3 linked regions of the Homo sapiens genome follow. The protein of the gene in region 1 interacts with the protein of each later gene in a biochemical or structural test. Each region holds a gene or a part of one and is shown in the gene's direction. Other genes may lie near its edges.

The links.
Region 2: the proteins of HTATIP2 (region 1) and ACSL4 form a complex in vitro, tested with the Homo sapiens proteins (one study listed by BioGRID).
Region 3: the proteins of HTATIP2 (region 1) and NCOA5 form a complex in vitro, tested with the Homo sapiens proteins (one study listed by BioGRID).

The regions. Positions count from the first base shown.
Region 1 is NC_000011.10:20,379,614-20,385,077, forward strand, and holds the end of HTATIP2 (protein HTATIP2), read left to right. Parts: intron 1-2,564; coding exon 2,565-2,626; intron 2,627-3,366; coding exon 3,367-3,592; 3' UTR 3,593-4,169; downstream 4,170-5,464. UniProt on the Homo sapiens protein: Represses translation by preventing reactivation of elongation factor eEF1A. May also inhibit nuclear import by competing with nuclear import substrates for binding to a subset of nuclear transport receptors.
Region 2 is NC_000023.11:109,681,258-109,685,705, reverse strand, and holds part of ACSL4 (long-chain-fatty-acid--CoA ligase 4), read left to right. Parts: intron 1-261; exon of another isoform or gene 262-279; intron 280-2,039; exon of another isoform or gene 2,040-2,219; coding exon of another isoform or gene 2,220-2,342; coding exon 2,343-2,570; intron 2,571-2,809; coding exon 2,810-2,987; intron 2,988-4,330; coding exon 4,331-4,440; intron 4,441-4,448. UniProt on the Homo sapiens protein: Catalyzes the conversion of long-chain fatty acids to their active form acyl-CoA for both synthesis of cellular lipids, and degradation via beta-oxidation. Preferentially activates arachidonate and eicosapentaenoate as substrates.
Region 3 is NC_000020.11:46,079,963-46,084,410, reverse strand, and holds part of NCOA5 (nuclear receptor coactivator 5), read left to right. Parts: intron 1-4,448. UniProt on the Homo sapiens protein: Nuclear receptor coregulator that can have both coactivator and corepressor functions.

The DNA.
Region 1 (5,464 bases):
CTTTATGGGCATTCTGCTGGTGCCGTGGGGAGACGTGTCAGGATGTGGAGCCCAGAGTACTGGATGGGCCTCATGTCCTCTGTTCTCAGGGTTTATAAGCTTTGGTTTCCTCATCTATTCAGGGTGAAGGTATACTTTCCAGACATGTGACATTTTATTATTGGGTATCATCCTTGACCTCAAGGAGTTTATAATCTGCTTGTATTGAGGGATCCTCAAAGACACCCCCAAGTTTGGTAATTCACTAGAAGGTTTCATAGGACTCAGCATATAGTCATACTCACAGCTACAACTTATCGCATTGAAAGGATATAGAGCAAAATCAGCAAAGGGAAAAGGTGTGTCGGGTGAAGTCTGGAGGAAAGTAGGTACAAGCTTCCAAGAGGCCTCTCCCCATAGAGCTTGCACAGGATGTGCTTAATGTCTCCAGCGATGAACGTTTTCTGCCAGAGAAACTCATCTGAGCCTAGGAATGCAGGGTTTTTATGGGAGCCAGTTACATAGGCACATTGGCCTAGCCAAATTGCAGCCCTCCAGAAGAAAGGCAAGTTTTCAGCATAAACCACATTGTTTGTACAGACAGTTTAGGCATAGTACATGACCCTTATCAGATAGGGAATGGTGGGAACACACCGAAAATCCAAGGTTGCAAGCACAAGCCAGGGGCCAAACTTGTAACAGGCCTTTCTAAGGATAGCAGTCTCAGCCTGCTATGGTATCTCTTTTATGCACACTGCTAATAGAGACAAAACAAATCTTTTAAAAAGCTAAGAAATGGGCTGGGCGCGGTGGCTCACGCCTGTAATCCCAGCGCTTTGGGAGGCCGAGGCGGGCGGATCACGAGGTCAGGAGATTGAGACCATCCTGGCTAACACGGTGAAACCCCGTCTCTACTAAAAATACAAAAAATTAGCCGGGCGTGATGGCAGGTGCCTGTAGTCCCAGCTGCTCGGGAGGCTGAGGCAGGAGAACGGCATGAACCCGGGAGGCGGAGCTTGCAGTGAGCTGAGATTGCGCCACTGCACTCCAGCCTGGGCGACAGAGTGAGACTCCATCTCAAAAAAAAAAAAAAAAAAAAGCTAAGAAATGTGTGTACACATAAAATCTTGTGTATGACTGTTCATAGCAGCATTATTTATAATGGCCAAAGAGTGGGAACAACCTAGATAGCCATCGACTGATGAATAGATGAATAAAATGTGATATATTCATGCAATAGAATATTATTCAGCTATAAAAAGAAATGATACATACTACAACATGGGTGAACCTTGAAAATATTATGCTAAGTGTGAGGAGACAGTCACAAAAGACCACGAATTATATGATTTCATTTATATGAAATGTCCAGAATAGGCAAATCTATAGAGATAGAAGGTACATTAGTGGTTGACTAGGTCCCCAGAGGGTAGGGTACGAGGAGTGACTGCTAATGATATGGGATTTCTTTTCAGGGTGATGAAATATTTTAAAACTTAGATCGTGATGAAGGTTACAGAGTTCTGTGTATATACTAAAAACCACCTATTAAAAAAAAAAGAATGGCCAAGCGCGGTGGCTCTCGCCTGTAATCCCAGCACTTTGGGAGGCTGAGGCGGGTGGATCACTTGAGGTCAGGAGTTCGAGACCAGCCTGGTCAACATGGTGACAACCCCGTCACTACTAAAAATACAAAAATTAGCCAGGCATAATGGCGGATGCCTGTAATCCCAGCTACTTGGGAGGCCGAGGCAGGAGAATTGCTTGAACCTGGGAGGTGGAAGTTGCAGTGAGCCAAGATCATGCCCTTGCACTTCAGCCTAGGTGACATGGTGAGACTCTATCACACACAAAAAATACATAAATAAATAAATAATTAAAATTAAAAAATTTTTAAAAAGAAAAAGATATTTAAAAATAGCTACTTAAATGTCTGTGATGAGACAGGTTAAGTGCCAATTGAGTGGTACACACAGGCCAAGAAGGAGGCGTGCATGACCGTGTGGTAGTTCACAGGCCTTTGGAAGTGCCTGTGGGCTGAGCTCCTCAGGCATTTTGTTTCCAGAGATGCCTGCCATGAAAATGCATGCTTTATTTAACAAATTAGATTTAAAGCATCATCTAGATGTAATCTGTCTTAAAATTTTGTGAGGTTTAAGAAGTGAGTAATATAGTGGGTCTATGGTTTTCTGACCCACTGGAACTACCTATAAACCAAAAAAACGTTAGTGTCTGCTAGCATGCAACATGAATTCTGGACTAAATAGAGGATATTCTTTTATGATTGTACTAACGTATGACTTACCCTCTCTGAATCTGTTTTAATATCAATAAAGTGAGAGGACTGACTATGCAGCCATTCACTCATTTAGTGGATCTTTTAAATGAAAGACTACACATCAGGATTAAATGATCTCTTCCTTAATTTCCCAGACTCCTTGGAACCTAAAATTCTAGATAAGGATATTTTGAGTATTGAGATCTGCAAAAGCAGATTATCTCAAAACCACAAATTATTCTCTCTTAAACTTCACACAGGTGAGCTGGTCGCGATTAAATACTGAAAATGTGTTTTTTCTTAATAGGGAGAAGTAGAAGCCAAGGTTGAAGAATTAAAATTTGATCGTTACTCTGTATTTAGGCCTGGGTAAGTATAATATTTATACTGAATGAGAGTATGCCACTGATGGTTAATCCCTAGATACTAATTTTTCATTTGGAAAGGCTGACAGCTGAAATATCTAAGATATGAAAGACATTGGCTAGAGGTAGATTGCTTCTCTGAAGGACACACCTTTTTGCTTAGAAAGAAAGGGTAGATGGTGGGGCCTGCTTCAGAATAGTCTGGAACTTCCTGGACAGCATTTGCTGCCTTCTTAAATCCTCTTCATGTGCCAAATAAAACCTTACGTCTACTGTATTAGTCTGCTTGGGTTGCCATAACAGAATACCACACAGATTGGGTGTCTTAAACAACAGAAATTTTTTTTCACGCAGTCTGGAGATTGGAAGTCCAAGATCAAGGTGCCCTCAGGGTTGGTGTCCGGTGAGGCCTCTTTTCCTGGCTGGCAGACAGACCACCTTCTGGCAGTGTCCTCACATGGCCTTTCTTCTTAGTGTATGCAGACAGAGAGAGACCTCTGATGTCTCTTCCTCTTATGAGGACCCCAGTCCCATCACACTAGTCCTATTCCATCCTTAAGACCTCATTAAACTTAATTACTTCCCTTAATGCCTTATCTTCAAATATAGACACCTTGGGGATTAGGGCTTCAACATTAGAATATTGAGGGGATACAGTTTTGTCCGTAATGCCCACTGTGGTCTCAGTGCAATTTACCACCTCTTCCTCTGCTTTTCTTTCTTTTTTTTTTTTTTTTATTTTAGAGTTCTGTTATGTGATAGGCAAGAATCTCGCCCAGGTGAATGGCTGGTTAGAAAGTTCTTTGGCTCCTTACCAGACTCTTGGGCCAGTGGGCATTCTGTGCCTGTGGTGACCGTGGTTAGAGCAATGCTGAACAATGTGGTGAGACCAAGAGACAAGCAGATGGAACTGCTGGAGAACAAGGCCATCCATGACCTGGGGAAAGCGCATGGCTCTCTCAAGCCATGACCACATTGGAGAAATGGTTTTTATTGTCAACCTTAACACCCATCACCAAATCGGTAATTTCAGGGTCTAAAAAAAGTCAGCATGTTTTAACTTTGTTGTTTTACTATCCTCAGGCATCCATTCCAATCAAGAAATGATGGTGCTCTGCATCAGTGGTTCAGAGCCTGGTTATACATATAGATCACTCAGGGAGCTTTGGAAAAATAAAGATTTGTCAGCCCTATCTCAAACTTGAATCAAAATTTCTGGGGTGTGGGCACAATAATCTGTAATTTTCTTTGTTTATACTTCCCCTGATGCCACTGGTTCCGATGCCACTGGCTGGGGGGCCTGCTTTGAAATGCTTGTCTGCAGAGTCACAGCAGCCATGAAAACCTTATGACCGTGCAAATGAGCTCTGCTCTAAAATTGTTGACATTCATGTCTCTGAGTTACAAAAGTGCTAATTCACTACATGTAATTGTGTAAGTAAACATTGTGCCTTTACTACTTCTTTATGTAATAGAAGTTATATACCTAAGCTTATATAATACATGGGGAGGATTAAATAAAGGAATAAAGATGAATGGACAACTCCTGGGTGCCTCTTAGATTGCTTGAAAATGCCCATGTAGTGTGATATGCAGCATTTCAGCCTATGGGGTGATATAATAGCAGCTAATATTTACCAAATGCTTGCTAAGTACCAGTCTTTACATGTGTTATCTGTGCTTTAACCCTCTTATAAACAATCCTTATAAAGTGATACTATCATGATCTTCATGTCTTAGATGGGGAAATGAGGCTCACTGTGGTTAAGTGCCTTGCTCAAGAGTCCAAATCTGAAGAACTGAAGCAAAGAAATGGCAGAGTCAGGATTCTAACCCAGGTCTGCCTGATCCCATAGATCCCATATATCGTGTTTTTAAGCACCCTGCAAAAGCATTCTGTTCCCGTATATTTCCAGGTAGTTCCAGTTGATTGTTACTACATGTTGTGGATGAACAAAATCGAAATATTTGGGTTTCTCCTTTGTTCTAGTGATTAATTACTAAATGTTCACATAGCCAGTAAAATTCTATGCCACCAAACTTTAAAGTGCTCATGCTGCTGCACTTTAAAAATTAAGGCAAAGGAAGATGCAGAAGGAAGGGTCAAAGCCAAGAGGAACATACATTGCTAATTTCCATCATAGAACAAAAGATGTTAATGTAACTTGTCTTAACGTCTGCACCAGGGAAGCAAAGTGATTCGAGGGACTCAGTCAATTCTTCCAAGGCCTACTGTATGCCAAGTACATTTCAAGCTTCAGTATACACTGGAGGATAAAGGCCATTCTCCTTAATTTGGAGTGTATATCCTTAGAAGGGAGAAGACATTCCCAGTGTCAGTCACCCAAAAAAGAGGCATATTTTAGGGCAGGGTGGGATATTGAAATGTGAGCTTTAAAAGGAAATGAAATATCTTCCTTCTGCCAGGTGGGGTTCCCTGGGAGTTGGACTTTGAAGAGCCTAAGTGTGTTGTTTTGATGGTGAAAAAGCATGGGCCGAGGATATGTTGAGGCCTCTGGGCTCTGAAAGCAGCTAAACCCAGTGGCCTGTTTTAAGTTATTCTCCTTATATTATTTCCTTACTCACAAACCTTCGAGCAGGTTTCATTCAACATGTTATTCTGGTCTCAGTAGTGATGTGGGATAATGAGGAAGGGTCTGTGTTCACCTTTGGAGTAGAGAGAAAAGCAGCCCTCTCTTGAGCTCTGCATTGTGGTGAGATATGAACTTACTAAGGAACAAGACTCTGGCCCAATCACTCCTCCACAATGGGTGTTAACTTGTTTTATTGTCAACACTGAATGGACTGGGTGTTCCATTTAGTACTAAGGGATTCAGGAAGT
Region 2 (4,448 bases), on another chromosome or scaffold:
TGAGGATTGACACCCAGTGACTTCCAGTTTCTTTCTCATTTCACTGTACTCAACTAAATTACATGAACAAAGGCACAGGCAGGATTAAGCTACCATTTTATATTAGATGGTATAAAAACAATCAACTAGCCTGGGGTCAATTGAATTAAGTCTGTCAGTCTGTTTCTACAAAAGTTGCAGAAGGATGGGCTTCAGTTTGTCTCTTCAAAGTGAACTAATATTTTGATTTTTCTGGTTGAAATATGCTACAACTCACCGAAGTAGCTTTCTCAGTTGAAGGTAAGCTCCTTAAAAAATGTTCCTATTCTTGGGCCGGGTGTGGTGGCCCCCGCCTGTAATCCCAGCACTTTGGGAGGCCATTGAGGGCAGATAGCTTGAGTCCAGGATTTTGAGAACAGCCTGAGCAACAATGGCAAAACCCCGTCTCTACAAAAAATGGAAAAAAACTAGCCAGGCATGGTGATGCACATCTGTGTTCCCAGCTACTCGGGAGGCTGAGGTGGGAGGATCTTTTGAGTCCGGGAGGCAGAGGTTGCAGTGAGCTGAGATCATGCCACTGCACTCTGGCCCGTGTGACAAAGTGAGACCTTGTCTCAAAAAAAAAAAAAAAAAAAAAAGAAAGAAAAGAAATATTACTATTCTTGAGCCTGTTTCTGCGGTTTCTTTCCAATGGCACTGTTTTTCTAACCTGCAGCAGCCCCCAGCTTTCCACATAATCCAATCAAAATTACTTTGCCTGATTTGTTAGATTTTGTAACTACCGTAGCGTATTTAGTCAAGCGTATTTAGCGTATTTAGTGTATGCTGTGCCCCAGTCAGACTAGTGTCCTTGCTATTGGTACTTCCTATTCTCCCAAAGTCCTTTCATTCCCACCTTCGTATCTTTTTTCATATGGTCCCTGAGCCTGGAATACCTTCCATTCCTCTTTCATTTCTAGATGCCCAACATAAGGTCCAGCTTAAATCTAATCTCCACAAAGCCTCTCCTAGTTACTCTTGGCCATTTTGCACTTCCTCTGAACTCCTTTTGCATTTATTGCTTATACTACTGCCTACACTGCACATGGTAGTTATGTATTAGTTATGTATTACCACAAGGCTTTTCAGTGGAAATGCTTTAGTGGTCACCTTGGGAGTTGGGATTCCGGGAATTCTGGGGCAGGACTCTGGACATCCCCAAACCCTGTTTTGGCCAGAGCAACTCCACTTTAGTGTTATATATGGGCAGTTTCCAGTAGTGTTTATTAGAAGAGATGGTTTAATTGCACCCCCTGTCCCCGTTCCCCCAAACAGTTGCAAAAATACTGGATCTATCTTGTGTGATAGTTGACTCATAAGTGTTAACTTATAATGGCCAAGGGCCAGGAATTAATACTACTTCAGACTTGTATTACCACTCCTAGGCAACTGGTGCAGTTTTGAGCACAAAGTGGACATGTAGGAAATGATTTTACAATTGTATTGCTCCCATGTGGGAAATAGTAGATAGTAAATAGCATTACCTGAGAAATTTACCTTAATGAAGAACTCAGAATAAGGTTTCTGGGTTGACCTTTGAGAAATAAATCTAAGTTGATAGTTTCTGCCCCACCCCCCCCTTTGGATATAAACCTAACACTATTTAAAGATGTCTAGTTTACATGCACATGTTTAAGAGAAATCTTATTATTGGCATACCCTATTCTACCAAAGTTTTGACAAACTTAAATATCATATTCATGCATTTGTGTAAGCATTAAGGTTGTTATTCAACTCACAGAATGATATGCAGAGTACCAGTACACCTAGAAACCTAGAAAAAAATAAATTCAGAAGTTGATGTGCTCAAAGACATTTACGTCAATAATGATTACAAATGGAAAATGCCAGCCTTTCAGACCAGTTATTTCAGCTTTCTGTAATTAATTGTGTAAACTAATAAAGACCTGAGTATTTAAATCAATTGTGCTATCAACTTGTTAATATTCTTTTGTTTTTGTTTTTTGTTTTTTGTTTTTATTTTTCCTGCTCTCTGCTTGGTTCATTGTCATCACCTACAGGCGTACTTTATTGTCGGCTTCCAAAGATTACTAACTTTTATCTGTATCACTAAGATTGAACTGCCTTGGCTGTACTGCTATTCTTACTGCTGCTTCTATTATTGCCTTCTTCAGCACAATAAGGCTTTCAAAAGCCAAAGAATAACAAGAAATAAGCACCATTTTAGAAGCCTTTCCACTATGAAACTTAAGCTAAATGTGCTCACCATTATTTTGCTGCCTGTCCACTTGTTAATAACAATATACAGTGCCCTTATATTTATTCCATGGTATTTTCTTACCAATGCCAAGAAGAAAAACGCTATGGCAAAGAGAATAAAAGCTAAGCCCACTTCAGACAAACCTGGAAGTCCATATCGCTCTGTCACACACTTCGACTCACTAGCTGTAATAGACATCCCTGGAGCAGATACTCTGGATAAATTATTTGACCATGCTGTATCCAAGTTTGGGAAGAAGGACAGCCTTGGGACCAGGGAAATCCTAAGTGAAGAAAATGAAATGCAGCCAAATGGAAAAGTTTTTAAGAAGGTAAAGTATTTTGGTGCTTTTCATTTATGTTTTAAAGAGGAAGACACATTTGTTTTATCATAAATCGAGTGCGTTTTAAGTATGCTGGCATTCTATTATAGTGCTGTGTAAAACTACTCAGAAGCCGCTCATAGCTTCTGTATGTTCATTTAAGAGCATTTTTAGAGTTTTATGCTTTGGATAGTATTTTAATTGCTTGTTTGAATATACTAATATTAGAGAATGTATCACTTTAACAGTTAATTCTTGGGAATTATAAATGGATGAACTATCTTGAAGTGAATCGCAGAGTGAATAACTTTGGTAGTGGACTCACTGCACTGGGACTAAAACCAAAGAACACCATTGCCATCTTCTGTGAGACCAGGGCCGAATGGATGATTGCAGCACAGACCTGCTTTAAGTACAACTTTCCTCGTAAGTGCCTTGTGTTTTTGGAGGGGGGAGAGGAGGGTCTTTGCTTGCATGTGAGAATTGTTTTGAGATGCTCTTGTTTTCACAGTAGGTGTTGTTTAGCCATTTTACACATTAATTATGTCCATAATACGGCATGTAATATTGTGGCTAAAAGATATCCGATGACTCCTGTTAAGTATGGTAACTTGTAAGAACTAATATGGGAATTGGCAGCTTTAAGGGATGTGATTTACACTTTTATTTTCCAATTGGAAATGAATTGTAACTGAAAGAGTTGGAGTTTGGGGGTATTTTGGGGGGGTGATATACAAAGAGTAATGATTAAAAGAACAAAAAACCATTTCTCAGGATAATTCAAATTCATTGCTTCACTTTGAGACCTCTTATTTGACTTATTCTATTTTACGTGTGAAATATGCATGTGACAGCTGGAATTGGCATTAGATATGTTAGAAAGTAAAATTGAGTATATTTCTAATACTCAAGCATTTGTTGTTGCCATTGTTTAAGAAATAAACAATGTATTGTCACATACTAAGTACTCTGTTGTTTGTTGAATGAAATATAACACTGTAAGTTAGGATTATAGAGCTTAAATTTCAAACAAAAAATAGATAATATGAAAATGATCCCCTATGTACCCATTACCCACTTTCAACGATGAACAGCTTGTGAAAGTGGCTATTTTTAACCACATTGTTTCTGGTTACCAATCTAGAGCTGAATTTTCAGTTCTTTCTAAGTTTAGCAGATGTCCTTTGATTCTAACTGATCTTGGTTTATGTTATCTCTGGTGGCTCCTAAGGAGTAGATCTCCTTGATCTCTCTAATTAAGGTGTGGAGGTCACCAATCACATTGGACATTGGACTCACTAAAACAGCTTCTTAGAAGGAGTAAGAACATTATCTGTGGCTGATCTTATGACTTAAGATCCTCAAGATTTTCAAGGACTTATCCATTCTTTGGAGGCTATGGCCAATGAAAGTGTGTATCAAGAAGAAGCCCTAGCTGGGCCAGTCTGACCTGAATTAAGAGTTCAGCCAGTACCTATTGGCCTTGAGCATCTAAATTGACAGATTTTTGATCAGCTGTGGCAGTGCGAGTGTTTCTGGGTTTCTTCAGGTTTAGGAAGTGAGAGTTCTGGGAATTTGTAAGGAAAACTTTGGGCTCCCAGGGAGTTTGAAGCAAGGTTGAAGGATGGTAACAGAGACTATGAAATCAAATTAAAATATACAATGTCTTTGTGTCTCTAAGTGTAACTATTATTAAAGACTGACTTCAATAATATCCATTTCTAATAGATGTTTATTACTTAATATTTGTGTTTATTTTTATTATGTAGTTGTGACTTTATATGCCACACTTGGCAAAGAAGCAGTAGTTCATGGGCTAAATGAATCTGAGGCTTCCTATCTGATTACCAGTGTTGAACTTCTGGAAAGTAAACTTAAGGTAAATAT
Region 3 (4,448 bases), on another chromosome or scaffold:
GACTGGACCTTTTCCAGGTTCCATCAGTATTTGATCAGGGAGTCCTAGCAAGAATATTCTAAATGGAAAGCATGTCTTTCCACTCCGTTGGAGGCAGCATAGCATAATGTTTAAGTACTTTGGTGTAAGAAAGACCTGGGTCTGAGTCTCAGCTCTGCCTCCTGATAATTGTGTGGCCTGTCACTTAATTTCTCTAAACTTCAAATTTTCTCATTTGCAAAGTAGAAATTATAGCAGTATTTAATTCCAAGAGTTGTAAAAGGATTGAATGAAATAATACACATAATGTTCTTAGTACACAGGCTCAGGAACAAAATAAGCATTCTGTAAGTATAAACTATTGTTTCCCCCATTTCTGTTCCCAGGAATAATATTCTAATACAGTTAAAGATGTAATAATTATTTTAGTTGGAGAATAAAGGAGATAATCAAATATATAGGGAAAGTATAGTATTCAAAGTGAACTTAAAGGGTTGATTTAGAAAGAGCAAGCATAACATTCTCTTATCCCTGACTTGTTACAATATAACTCATTACAATATCCCTGATGTTGCAATATATCATCAAAGTTGTCTTCATAAATATAGTTTAGCGAGAAGTCCTGTCATTTCCCCTCCCAATTTGGGGGATTTAATGTGTGATATTCTCTGTCTTGTCAGTATGGTTTTCCAACTGGCATTATCTTTATCAGCATGTAATGCCACTTTAGTAATTCTTGATTGTTAGTTGGTTTTCAACTAAGCCTTTTAGAGAGTTTTATGTCATTTGTAGTCAGTTATTAAAACAGTATAGGCTTCTGGGTTCTTTGAACAGCTAGTGGTGGTACTGTCACTAAGTGTTGTAGTTCATGTGGCTGTCAAAAGACAAAATTACAGCACACTTAGTTTAGAGATCTTAATTGTCTTTTATTTGCAACTCTAGAATAGGGCAACACCTCATTCTATAAAATAGAACAAGTGTTCCAATGAGCTGAGCAGAGGCGTTTGGCTTTATAAACAGAGAAGGGAGCTGAGGAAAGCAGAGACAAGGAGCAAAAAGCGGATTGGTCATTTCAGAGTTACTTTTCTTGTGAAGGGTAAAGCAGTGCAGACTTCCTTTTCATGCTGGCTAAAACTGGCCTATTTGTGGTTTTGGCCATTATTTATCTCCTGATTTCGCAGAACGTCAGGAAAAGATCTTTGTCTTGGCTTGATAGCGTGGAACTTCATCATGAATTTGGTTTGGTCTTTGGGCCTAGTTCAGGAGCTCAGTCCAAAGCAATGGCCTCCTGGAAATTTTCTTTGACACCGCTCTTGTTATTCCTAGTCCTCATTGTTTTCTGTGGCTGTAGCTTATGAACTATAAAATCTGGTTTTAAGGTGAAAAGAGTTGTTTTATGATTGTACAATTAAAAAATAAGTAGAACAAAGTAGTTTTTGGTACTGTGAGTGAAAGAAACATGCATTTTTATTTATAGCATTATCCAAGGACCATTTTGTGACCCCTGTCTGGCATATTAGTCTAAAATAAAATTGTGGATTAGATATTGTATATTTTGGGAGTTCTTCACCCCATCCTTTTGTAGTTTATAATGGTTCTGCCATTTCCAGCATGTTTTCTAGATTATTTTCCAGTTCTTTTCCTTGTATGTAAAGCTCTTTTTCTTGTCTAAAAATTCTTAACTGAGAAGTGCTTTTAACTGTTTTCAGACCACCACTTGGACACTATAGATATTCAGGCCAAGATAAAGCACTTCATGGTGATTATGATGATTTTGAATGGCATTCACATTGCTAGTATAATTAACAAAGTATAGAAGTATCACCCAAACTGAAGTGGAGAAGACACTGAGAGATGACTTTTGGTCTTAAGGGCAGTTGGCCAGAATAAAGTATAGCAGAAGGGGAAAGAAGTACCGTTTCTTCCCTTTTCTATTCAGAGGAGACATTAGACCTCTCCTTGGAAGAGATTCCCAAGTTGCCACTTCCCTCTTGTTGATTAATTTTTCTCCAACCAGAGTTCCCCATCTGATGTCCAGAAAGATCTCCAAATTGTCTTTCTACCTTTTTTTCCCTTCTTTACATTAACACCATTTCTATTTGCTTGGTGTTGATTATATCTCTCTATAAGGATTTAGGAGAAAATAATCTGATTATTTAATACAAAATAAAACTATAGATTAGATACTGTGTCTTTCTTTGGGAATTCTTCACCCCATTCTTTTGTGGTTTAAAACAGTTCTGTCATTTCCTACATGTTTTCTGGATTATTTTCTGGTTTCTTCCTTTTATGTAAAGCCGTGAGTTGGTGCTTTAGCATTCTCAATATTTGCATTTTCAAAGAAAATCTTTTTTAAATGAACCCTCTGCTTCCAACTGACAGGTTTTCAAATTCTGTGACAAAAAAAATAGGATGAGGGAAGTTTTTTCTTGACTTCTTGAATCTTTGCTCTCCGTGATTAGTTCCTTAAAGTTATTTATTCTTCTGTATTTCTGAACTCATGGATTTCCCAAAAGTTCTATGTGCACATGTGTTAGGATTTTTTGGGTGTATGGGGATTGGCAGTAATGTTGGTGGTTGTGTTTTTACAACTCTCACTGAAAACTCCCCAGCCCTACCCTAATCTGAGCAATTCTATTAGATAGGAAAAAAAAAAAAATCCAGGTCTCATTTTCTCCATACGTCAGCCCAGATGGAAATTTAAGGAACTCTTAAATAGAGATGAATAAACAGATACTTGACATACTACACTAAAAGTTTACTAAACCCTAAAATGAGACAATTATCTGAGAATTCTTGTTTTTGCAGAAGAAACATCCCATGCTGTCAAATATAAATACTTTGGACTACCCAATGAAAATAGATACTACGAGGCAAATTACAATCAAAATGGTTTAAAGATATAATCTTGAATATTCTTTAATCTTTTAAGTAATTACAAAACGATTCCACCAGCTTCAAAGTAAAATATTTATGTCCTTCATTCTAACTAGAACTGGTTTTGTTCCAAAGATATAGTATACATGACCATGTGATTTCTCCAGTTCTGTATGTAGATGCTCACGAAACTGGCTATAATTATACAGTGTAATATTCCTTTTCATATGTAGAGAGCAAATTATTGGTAATAGAAACCTACCAATTAAAGTAATACTATATGTGTTGTACTCTTAACCTGAATGTTTGCCAGGTCTAGTCAGTGTTTAGATGTGAGTTTCCTTTATTCACAAGACCATTTAATAATATATGAACTCCTGCTGAAGTTATGTTATGTATATTTTTTATCTTAATACACACCCAGTGTATTCCAGAGACACCTTGAAAACTACTTAAAATACTCAAAGATATTATATTTCTCTCTGAATCATAGCCAACCTATATAATTAGAAAGTGGTACACAGTAAGTGAACAGACTCAGTAAGTCATAAACCTGAACTAGTATTCTTCACAATTACGTATAATAGAACTAGATATTCCCTATAAGGCCTGTCATTATATAATTTGTAATTTAGACCATTATAAACTTTAAGAGTTGTAAATTGTGAAAGTACTGCATGCAGTAGCAAAGCTATGGTCAGATATTACTGGCCAAGTCTTACATAGAAAATATTTTCAGGTTTTTTTTAAAATAGAAGGATTATATCTTGTGTCTGCTTAATTGAAAAGGTAAGAATCAATTTAAGATATACTTCACTATTTAGCTTTATATTATTTTCAGTTTTGTCAGAAGCCATTTTTCTAGACAAATTAGAGACTTCTGATTTAAAATGGAATTGAAGATTACCTTCATTTGATCAGGAACTCAAAAGTTGGCAAAATAGCAGCATAAAATCTCTACCAGACCTCTAAGTTTCTTGTTATTGCTGTGGTCTTTCATGTGATAGGAATCTGGTTGGGATTTTTAAAATACATAATTATTATTTTAAAGCACTCGAATTATGTGAGTACTTAATACCATTTGATGTCATTAGATACACTATTAATTGTTTAATACGGAAAAAGGGGAACAAACTCTACTGCAGCAGAAAGCACTTTTATTTCTTCATTCATCTGAAGTATGAAATTTGTAATGTATTTATTTAGCTTTAAGTCATATGAAAACTGTCAGGTATTATTTTGGGGCATAGATTTCTTAGTACATGGTATTTATTATTCACTTCAATTTTTGTAAAGCAGGTATTCTTGGTTTTTAGCAAAGCAGGCTTTAGCTATACAAATTTGCTTTTCTTTAAGCTTATGTGATTCTACTTTTCTCCCATATCTAGTTCTATACGCCAGCCTTCTCTAATGAAAACAACTTAGGAGGAGTGTTTTATTACCTAACCCTACTATACCAAACGCCAGTCCTTATTCTTGGTTATCTGTAGATGTTAACAGGTCATATTCTTTGTTTATTAAAAATAATAATAATAATTTTCTTTCCTGCATGTTATTCTGGAAGATTCTATCCAGTGGAATTCAACACAAGA